2 separate regions of the Homo sapiens genome follow, and region 1 is linked to region 2. The links come from fine-mapping of genetic effects on gene expression. Tissue or cell type: whole blood. Region 2 holds a variant in brackets; the other region holds the start of a gene. All regions are shown on one strand. Distances are from middle to middle.

The links. PIP is the estimated chance that this variant, and not a neighbour inherited with it, causes the effect.
Region 1: it holds the start of FAM185A, and the variant in region 2 is the best candidate, but not a certain one, in a credible set for the expression of FAM185A in whole blood (TOPMed, PIP 0.66).

The regions. Positions count from the first base shown.
Region 1 is chr7:102,745,973-102,751,356 of GRCh38, forward strand. It overlaps FAM185A (family with sequence similarity 185 member A), which reads left to right and starts at 3,027. Exons shown (of 8, transcript NM_001145268.2): 1 at 3,027-3,686. The coding sequence starts at 3,236. It also overlaps the pseudogene RASA4DP. RefSeq lists silencers at 2,717-2,806, 2,847-3,016 and an enhancer at 2,750-3,044.
Region 2 is chr7:102,790,987-102,796,370 of GRCh38, forward strand. The region is part of intron 7 of FAM185A (family with sequence similarity 185 member A); the gene reads left to right. Among named protein-coding and RNA genes, the nearest start is that of FAM185A, 45 kb to the left of the region's middle. The variant GT/G (reference allele first, on the strand shown) is at 2,214.

The DNA.
Region 1 (5,384 bases), 45 kb before region 2:
TAAATTTATTATTATTATTACACAATTGAGATCATACTATACGTGCAATTTTGTATATATTCTTTTCACTTTATATATGGACTATTTCCCATATCAAGATATAATGTTTAAATTGTTGCATAATATATCAGCTATATACTAATTTATGTAATACTGTCTTATTTGCGAGCATTTAACATTTTTTTTTTGAGACAGAGTTTCAGTCTTGCCATCCAGGCTGGAGTGCAGTGGTGTGATCTCGGCTCACTGCAACCTCTACCTCCTGTGTTTAAATGATTCTCCTGTCTCAGCCTCCTGAGTAGCTGGGATTACAGGCATCCATCACCACGCCAAGCTAATTTTTAGCAGAGATGGAGTTTCACCGTGTTGGCCAGGCTGGTCCTGAACTCCTGACCTCAGGTGATCCACCCGTCTCAGCCTCCCAAAGTGCTGAAATTACAGGCATGAGCCACTGCACCTGGCCAGGGAGCATTTAAATTGATGCAATTATTTTCTCTTACAAGTAACCCTATAAAACGTAATTCCTTGAGCATACCTAATTTTATGCTTACATCCCCAAGAGCACAATTTCTGAGTCATAGAAAAAGCTTTTCATTCTTATTGCTGAATTGAACTCTAAAAATTTTGTGCTAACTTAACACTCCTACCAGAAGTATATGTTCATGACCACGGAAATAGCTTTTTAAAACTAAGATGTGAAAATATCTTAGAAACAAACTCTAAATAAGGAGAAAAAAGTTGTATATAATTTTCTACTTATGAGGTGAATAATTTCATTTTTTCTTCAAAGGTGTCAGGAAAATGGACGTTTTGGTAGAGTGATAAAAGGGCCAGACCTTCTAATTGCTTAATCTTAATGTTTCTGAATCTGAATCCTCATCTATAGTGTGAGGAGAATAATTTCCCTCCTAATTAGTGAGGATACATTGAGATGACGCATGTGAACATGGTTTGACAATTATAATGTCATATGGATGGAAGATACAACTTTTATTAATCACTGTTGATATGTGGACAGATTTGATACTCATTATACTGTTTTTAAGTGTCTATAACTTTAAATATTTTATGCCAATCTTAATATTAATAATTTTCTCCATTTTCAACATTGTATGATCAGCAAAGTAAATTTTCAGTCAATTCTATTTGGTTTTTATTTGAAAAAGTAAAATAATGATCATGCAACATAGAAAATTATAGTTCAGTTGCCAATTCCATTAACTTAGTTTGTCTCAGAAAAGGAAAAATTACCATAGACACAGAATTAACTATTAGAATTAATATTTAATCTAAAAATGTCTAGTGTTTCTACAGAAAATTTGAGTACCTTCTCAACTTCCTTAAACCAGTGCCTTTTTCAAATTTCTTTTCAAAGTTACACCTCTCAATTTTCATAAAAAATAGTTTGAAGATTATTCTGAATAATTATAACCAATGAAACACAAAGACAAGAAAAGAACTATTGCAGTGGGCCCTTGCTGAACCTGAGCTAGCACCTATAATGAGTGAGTCTTCACCAAAAGAATAAGGAGGGAGGAAGGACTAGAAGGACAGAAAAGAGGCAATGATAACTTAAGAGAACACTGAATTTTTAAAAATTTTAAAAAGGTAGTGGCTAGCAGAGAACCTGAGACTTGTACCCATGAGAACTTTAGCCCAGTCTATCTATCACGATAGCCCCAAGAATTCTGGTCATTGTACTTGGGTAAGGGCTTCTATTTTTTAAGGCACTTGCATTTTATGAAATGTTAGTGTTTGCAGGTGTCTTGGCTAAATAATTTAGGGAATACATTTTAGGAGGAAGTAGGGGCACAGAGGGGGAGAGAGAAACCAGGCAGGAAAGAAGAAAAAAAGAAAAAAGAAGAAAATAAATCTTTCTGTTCCCATTATTTTACTGCCTATAGAATTATAAAAGGTAAACACACACACACACACACACACACACACACACACACCCCTTATAGGGTCATTTAGAACCATCTTTCTTCATTTTAAAACTAAAGAAACAGGTCTAGGTGACACAGATGAAGCAGTGGCAGAGCCAGGAAAATAACCTGACCCTTGTCCCTGCTCTTTCCACCGCACCATGGTGACTCTCTTTTTTGTGTCTTTTTTTTTTTTTTCACTCTAAAACTGAGGATCATTTGTAGTCAAAGAGATCAATGCTATTCTCAAAACAAGTTCTGATCTCTCATAATTTTCTTGGTAACTCAGAATCAATGTTAAGTACGTTGAAATAAAAATACAGTTCTTTACACGGTAATTTTGTAGACTGTGCACCACGGTCCCATCCATTTTCTTACTTGATCCTTACAAAAACCCTTTGAGGCAAGGCAAGGAAGGTATTATTATCTACATTTTTAAAGTGAGCAAATTAAAACCCAAAGTAAGGTCACTTAGGGTCAGGACGGAGCAAGTACTCTATTCCTATATTTGGAATATAGGAGGGAATACACTTCCAAAGAGGCAATTCCCTCAAAAAGCACCAATCTTGCTCTTTACTTTCTTACCAAGGCATTCTCCATGCCCTGGAGATGCCCTCACTAAGTTAGTGAAGCTTGGATGTTGACATCCACAGAGGTTACTCCTAGTTTGCACCTAGTTGTCATCTTAAAAAGCGCAGTTTCTTACCCCTTCCCTTGGTCCTGATCCTTATTTAGGCTCCTATTTTTCTCTTTGGGATTTGGCGTCCTGGGTCTCACTCCAAAGCTCCACCCTCTCCAACCAAGAAGTCGCGTGCTTGGTATCCAAGGTGACCACGCAGCTTTACCCGCGTTGCCCCTTCCGTGCTTCCCATTGGCCAGTGGACTCCCATGTACCGCCCCTCCAATAGCCAATGGTCTTGAGACAAAGGGCGCCCGCCTTTCCAGCGATTCTAACACCTACCCTCTTACCCGTGCTCCCCTGCGCATTGCCTCCTGGGAAATGTGGTTTCTAAGAGGCAGAGCTCTGCGACTTAGAACTACCTATCCCGTCGGCCTTAGCGAAAGGGGGTGGACTTAGGCAAGGGGTCCAGGTCAGAGTTTAGAGCTTTCAAATCCCAACTTGCCCCTGGGGATTGCGCGGCTGATGTTTAGAACGCCTAGTCAAGCCAACCGGCTCGCTCTTGTTTCAGCAAACCCTGACTTACGTCTCCTATTTGACTTGAGGCGGCACAGTGGCCAAGTCGATTGGCCGTGGCAAGTGACCCTCCCTGTGGCTGAAGTGTTCTGAGGACTGGCGAGAGAGGCGCGCCATGCTTGCCCCCTGCTCAGGTTGGGAGCTTGGCTGCTTCCGTCTCTGTCTCCGTCAGGTCCGACTGTGGGCTGGCGCTGGGCGCTGGGCTTGCTGGGCTTGCCAAGCCAGGCCGTACAGCTCAGGTGGGAGCGAGCGCTGGCCCGGATCGGAGACTGAGGTCCCTCCGCCTGGCCCGGGGCGCCGAACTCTGAAGGAGTGGACACTGCAGGTGAGCCCGTTTGGTCGGCTGCGGGCGCGGCTCCCGTGCCACCTGGCCGTGAGGCCCCTGGACCCCCTCACCTACCCGGATGGCGACCGCGTGCTGGTCGCGGTGTGCGGCGTGGAGGGCGGCGTGCGGGGCCTGGACGGCCTGCAGGTGAAGTACGACGAGGATCTGGAGGAGATGGCCATTGTGTCTGATACTATCCACCCCCAGGCGTCCGTGGAGGTGAACGCGCCCCTGAAGTTTGGCAAGTGAAGTGAAGTGAAAACGGGTTTGGGTCCCAGGGAACGCACAGTGAACTTAATAAATGTGGTCGACGTGCACTTTTAATTGGTCCTGGCTCTCTAAACCTAATTTACAGTTGGCCCCTTCGGAAATGCACCTTTTCCTCTGTTCTGTTCTTGAGTGTCCGAGTAGTATTTAAAAATTAGGTTCCCAATTATAGAAATTTTATACATCGAATGGAAACATGATTTGGTATAATCCAGGTCAAATTCTATTTCTGGAGCCGCTTGTGTTCTCCTTTATCCCGTTGTCATTAGCAAACTGGCTTATTTTTCAAGGTTGAAGTTTCTTGACAATTCATTCAATGGTATGGCAGTCCATCTACATTTCATCTTGCTCACAGCCTGGGGGTCTGTCCCAAAACAGCCCTGTCAATAGGATGTTCCGGGTATCACCTGGTTTGAGTATTTGGTTTTAGACGGGCGCCCAGCTTCTTACTGTTATATTTCCATTCTTTTTGGCCTAAGTTTTCCATGAGTAGCAAGCTTTGAAGAAAAACACATGGTAAGCCTGCCTAGGAAGCTTCAATAATAATGCCTGCAAGATACCTTTCTTAGCTTTTCCTAAATGGCAAGCCACTGTGTACACACACTTTTCTAGGAAGGGCTCCCCAGACTGTCATTCTTCCTGGGACTGATGGAAGATATTGATGATGATGATGATAGTAATAATAATAGCATTTAGCATTTTTAAGATCATCTTTTATAATGCTTAGAGTTGCCCAAATAGTAGATGCCGTAGTCCTCCCTTATCCACCGTTTGGCTGTCTCAGTTTGTTACCTGCCTCAGCTGTTGTAGGAAAATATTAAGATATTTTGACAGATCACAGTAATATAACTTTTATTACAGTATATTGTTATAATTGCTGTATTTGTTATTATTGTTCATCTCTTACTATGCCTAGTTTATAAATTAAACTTGATCATTGATATGTATACAGGAAAAAACATAGAATATATAGGATTTGGTACTATTTGTGGTTTCAGGAATCAAGTGGGGGGGCGGGTCTTGCCTACTTTAAGAGAAATCATCAATATTTATGTTAATTCCAAATTAAATATCAGCGTTTTTAATTTTTAAAATTTGTATACAGAGATGCCTGCAGTTACATCTTAAATAGACAGCCAAGGATGGCATTTGTAATTCCTTATTTTCCAAACTTGCTTCATATACCACTGCCATTTGTCCACAATCTTGTGGGGTTTTTTGTTTGTTTGTTTTGGTTTTTTTTGAGACTGCATCTCACTCACTCTGCCACGCAGGCTGGAGTACAGGTGCACAATCATGGCCCACTGCAGTCTTGACTTCACGGTTTTAAGCAATCTTCTCGCCTCCACCTCCTGAGTAGCTGGGACTACAGGTGCATGCTACCATGCCCGGCTAATGTTTTTGTTTTTTTGTAGAAATGGAGTTTTGCTACATTGTCCAGGCTGGTCTTGAACTCCTGGGCTTCAAGCAATCCTCCTTCCTCGGCCTCCCAAAGTGCTGGTATTACAGGCATGAGCCACTGCTCATGGCCTAATCTTGTAGTTTTAATAGTATATATTAGCTTTTTCAAAGTTGTTCCCATTTTTAAAAAATTACTTCAAATACCTGTGATATAGTTGCATGGTAATATTTTCATTTTTTAAGTATGAAAGGTTAGACATAGGATTTGAAA
Region 2 (5,384 bases):
ACAGTACAGTGGGATCAATGTTATAAACGTATGTACATTGTACTGTGAGAACACAGGGGTGAGGAAGTGAGAGAAGTCAAATATGGCCAAAGTATAGAGAGTAAAGGGGAAAGTGGCATAAAAGTAGGCTGGAGAGTTTGGGAGAGGTCAGATCATATGGGACAGTTTGGATTTTATATTAAGAGCATTGGGAAGCCCTTGGAAGGTTTTAACTTGGGGTTCACATAATCAGATTTTTGTGTTAGAAAGATCACTCTGAATGTTGAGTGGGGATAGATGAGAAAGAACAATGGTGGATGAAGGAGAAAAAAACAACTTTTGCTTTTTAGGAGGTTACTGCAGTAATTCAGCAGAAGGAGTACAGGGGCCTGGACTCCATAGTGAGCTATCTTAAACTCAGCAAATAAATAGGCCTTCAGTAACTTTTGCTTGAATATAAAGACGAATGAATGCTATGAGGAAGATGCATGCTTACCTCATTGGTTATTATGAAGCGCCTTAGCCTATTGAGTTCTTTTTGTGTGTTACTTGTTATTATGGCTTATACTCCGGCCCCACCTCCTGAACCAGGAAGGGCCAAATCGCAGAATGATGAGTTTATTTCCTGTTCACAGTGGAAGAATCTAGGTACTGATCAAGCATCGTTTTGCAGAGTAGCACAGACTACCCTATGAGGTTGGTCCCCAGATGGATCTGTATGTTGTCTCTGATAGCAAATTAAATCCATTAAAGTAATAATGGACCTCAGGTGAAGAGAGCAGCAGTCTCTGGAGGGAGCTGTGAGTATGAACAGGTGATTGGGTTTAAGAGAAACTTCCATATTTCATTTTGGTTTTAAAACTGTTTGGTACCCAGTCAGCCACAGGCCTTATGTATCAACTGGATGAAATAATTTAAGAGGCCTAGAAAATCAGGGCAGATTGCTTTTTTCTGTGGAGATTTCCAATCTGAAACCAAATTTTGGAAATAATGAGCAGCTTTATATGTGAGCTATTATTATAGGCAGCTGAGCTCAGCTCATCTTGGCCTTCCTCATAGAGCCCATGAGGGATAAAAATAGAAATACTCTTATTGCTAAAAGCCTGGATTTTATCTGCAGCATGACTTCTGGATAATCTCTGCAAGAAGCCATGCCAGTAAAATTATTCCCTTAGGTTCCAGCTTCCCACAGGGTTTTGATGTGTCAGCTCTATAATTTTATTTGATTTCCTGCTCCATGGTTTCCTTTGCTATTGCTGTCACTGATAAATAACTCAGGTGTATAATTCCTACCATGATTTACACGTATTATGTGCTATTCTGAGGTCAAAAGGAAACCTGAGACTCTCAGGCTGAAACATTTACCTACTAAAAAGCTATGCACAAGTGTGTATTGGGGCTGCATTCTATAATCTTCATGAGAGTCTTGATTCTAAGTTTTGTCCTCTACCCATGTGTGGCAAATTTAACATGTTGTGAGTGGCTTAGGTAAGATGCTTCTAATAAGTTGGCTTCTCTATTAGGTTTTAGACTTGGTTCATCAACTTAGATATGAAACTTGACTGTGGTAAACATCAAGTCTCCAAGCCCAGGTATGCATGTTGTACAAAGTCCTTTGGTCTTTACAACTCCACAATTTAGATGTTTAAATGTTCAAAGAATATTAGAGGTAAAGTGCGTTGCCAGTGAACGGATTGGTGTTTGTCATTGTCTGGATAGTAGGGAAGCTAGCACTACTGGGTTTACCTCATTTTAGTAAAACTGGAAATATAAAGCATATACAACATAAATTCATTTGGGATAAAAATAAACCACCAAGTCAGAAAAGAGTTCTTAGCTTGTCTAAAGGACAGAGGGTAATAACATACAATGGAATTGTTATTTATAGTGGAATACTCGTTCATGGGTTGGAAGAGGTTGAAATGGGACTAAGCTCATAAGATGCCACTTTAAAAATCTAGAGACACTGTTTTCTCTCCAAATCGGGAAAAATCCAGTCTTTTGATATGACTAACTCTTGGAAATAGCTCTGATTTTAGAACCCACTAAAGTTTTTGGTTTTTCAAAGCTTAGAGCACATGAATTTGTCAGCAATGTATATATATTTCAGGACCAGATGGAAGAAATTCAATAACAGAATGAAGAATGCTCTAAGGCTTATAGGTATCTGCTTAAAAATACTTTGACAGGGAGTTAATGTAGGAACTGTTTTCACGTCATAGTGCTTTTATGGT[GT/G]TTTTTTTTTGTTGTTGTTGTTGTTTTTTGAGACGGAGTCTCTCTCTATCACCCAGGCTGGAGTGCAGTGGCACCATCTCGGCTCACTGCAACCTCTGCCTCCCGGGTTCCAGGGGTTCTTCTGCCTCAGCCTCCTGAGTAGCTGGGACTACAGGCGCCCGCCACCATGCCCGGCTAATTTTTGTATTTTTAGTAGAGACAGGGTTTCACCATATTGGCCAGGCTGGTCTCACCTCCTGACCTCGTGATCCGCCCACCTCGGCCTCCCAAAGTGCTGGGATTACAGGCGTGAGCCACTGCATCCGGCCGCTTTTATGGTGTTTTTATTTCCCCACCTTTTTGTTAAAGAATAAGATCTTGAGAGTATCATGGGTAATCAGATGTCAATGTTGTTAATGTTTGCCCCAAAAAAGAAGATCAGGTTTTCTTTCCATTCATCTGCAAACTTTATCTGTAAACACCATATAGTAAATATGTTAGACTTAGCAGATTACATATGGACTCTGTTGCATATATTTTTTTGTTTTTAAATAACCCTTTAAAAATGTAAAAGCCCGGCCGGGCACGGTCGCTCACGCCTGTAATCCCAGCACTTTGGGAAGCCGAGGTGGGTGGATCACCTAAGGTCAGGAGTTAGAGACCAGCCTGGCCAACATGGCGAAACCCTGTCTCTACTAAACATACAAAAATTAGCTGGGCGTGGTGGCGGGTGCCTGAAATCCCAGCTACTCGGGAGGCTAAGGCAGGGAGAATTGCTTGAACCCAGGAGGCAGAGATTGCAGTGAGCCGAGATCGTGCCACTGGACTCCAGCCTGGGTGACAGAGACTCTGTCTCAAAAAAAAAAAAAAAAAAAAAAAAGTAAAAGCCCTTCTTAGCTTTCAGGGCATACAAAAACAGGCCCCTGGCCAGATTTGGCCTGTGAGCTATAGTTTGCTGATCCCTAGACTAGAGTTCAAAGAGCAGGCCCCAATCTCAGAGCATTATGAGTTCTGTTTGTGATGCCTGTGGGGTTTTGTTTTATTATTGTCTTTGTATTTATTTTGGTCATTCAAGAAATATTAAACCATAGCCAAATCCTTATCCTAAGTGAACTATCCCCAGTAGTGAAGAAAACATGATTCGTGCACACAAAAGTTTAATCTTGTAACTTTTAAGAAACAGTGCAACCATAGAAGATATATGATGGCAAAAAAATACACAAAAAGATATTTACCATCACTAGCCATTAGGGAAATGCACATTAAAACCAGAATAAAATACTACATACTTACTAGAATGGCAAAAATTAAAAATACCGATTATTCAAATGCTGGCAAGTGTGCAGAGAAACTGGATCTCTTCTACATTACTGGTGGGAATGTAAAATGATACAGCTACTCTATAACTCAGTCTGGCAGTTTCTTAAAAAAATAGAAAAAAAAAGAAACTACCATTAATCACCTAGCATTTATATTCCTGGGCATTTATCCTGGGGAAATGTAACTTATGTTCACACAAAAACCTGTACACAAATGTTCATAGCTTTATTTGTAATAGCCAAAAAACTGGAAATGACTTAAATATCCTTCCATGACTGAATGTTCATATGACTCATGGTATGTCCACATAAGGTAATTCACCGACAAAGGGAACAATCTGTTGATGTAAACAACTTGAAGGGAATTTAAGGGCATTATTCTGAGTGAAAAAAGCCAATCTCAAAATGGTCCATACTCTATGATTCCATTTATATAACATTCTTGAAACAACAAAATTAAAGATGTAGAGAATAGACAAGTGGTTGCCATAGGTTAGGGAAGGAGAAGGACAGTATGACTTTAAAGGGACATGACAAGGGACTTCCTTTGTAGTGACAGAACAGTTCCATATCTTGATTAAAATGATGGTTATATATGAATCTATATATGTGATAGATAAAATGTCATGAGTATATACAAAGACATACCCGAAAAATGAATGCATGTAAAAACTGGTGAAATCTGAGTAAGGTCTATAGTCCAGTTAATTTGCCAGCTAATTTCCTGGTTTTGATAGTGCAGTATAGTTATAGAAGCTGTCACCATTAGGGGAACTGAGTGATGGGTATACAGAACCTCTCTCTACTGTTTTTGTAACTTCTTGTCAGTATGAAATTATTTCAAAATAAGTTAAAAAAGAGGGTGGAAAGAAGGCAGGGAGAGGGAGAAAGAAAAATAATGAAGTCTTCTGGGCAGGATGGAGTTAAAGGGTCTGACTTACCTTCCCACCTGAAACAATGACAAAAAAATTTAAAAATTAAGCAGATACAGGAAACAAACAAGATGAGTCTTGCTTACTGCCTTGAGAGAGTCTCCAGGCTCCAGTACGGGAAAAGGGAACTGCTCTTGAGTCTAGAACACTCCCTGAGTTAGGGAGATCAAGATGAGAGTCGATAAAGATCAAGACAGGGTTCACAGGACAAAGTACCAGAGGGAATAGAACCTGGTGCTCACACAGGTCCAGGAATAATGCCTGTTCTTCCCACCAGACTGGAAAGAAAATCATAACTCATGGGGCATTGGGTAGAGCATTTAGTAGTGGGAAACAATCAGTCTTAGGCTGAGCACCACTCTATAATTGCCTAACAAATTATAAAAGCAAGAGATGAAAGGCTTAAACTATTTCCAAGTAACTTAACTGCATCCTTGAGTGAAGCTCAAGATTTACAGGAATACAAAAATATCCAGCACCCAACAAAGTAAAATTCACAATGTTGTAACCCACCCAACAGGTTCACCTTGCCCACTGCCTAGAAAGAGCCAACTTATCAAGACGGGAATTGCAGTAGAGAAAGAGAAATTCACGCAGAGCTGGCTATGCAGGAGACCAGTTTTATTATTACTTAAATCAGTCTCCCTGAGAATCTGACGATCTGAGTTTTTAAGGATAATTTGATAGGGGGCCAGTGAGTTAGGAGTTTTGATTAGTCAGTCTGAGATGAAATCATAGGGAGTCAGAGCTGTCCTTTTGTGTTGAGTCAGTTCCTGACTGGGGGCCACAAGACCAGATGAGCCAGCTTATCAATCTGGGTTATGCCAGCTGATCGACTGAGTTTAGGGTCTGCAAAATATCTCAAGCACTGATCTTAGGTTTTACAATAGTGATGTTATCCGCAGGAGCAATTTGGGGAGGTTTAGCAATTTGGGCAGCT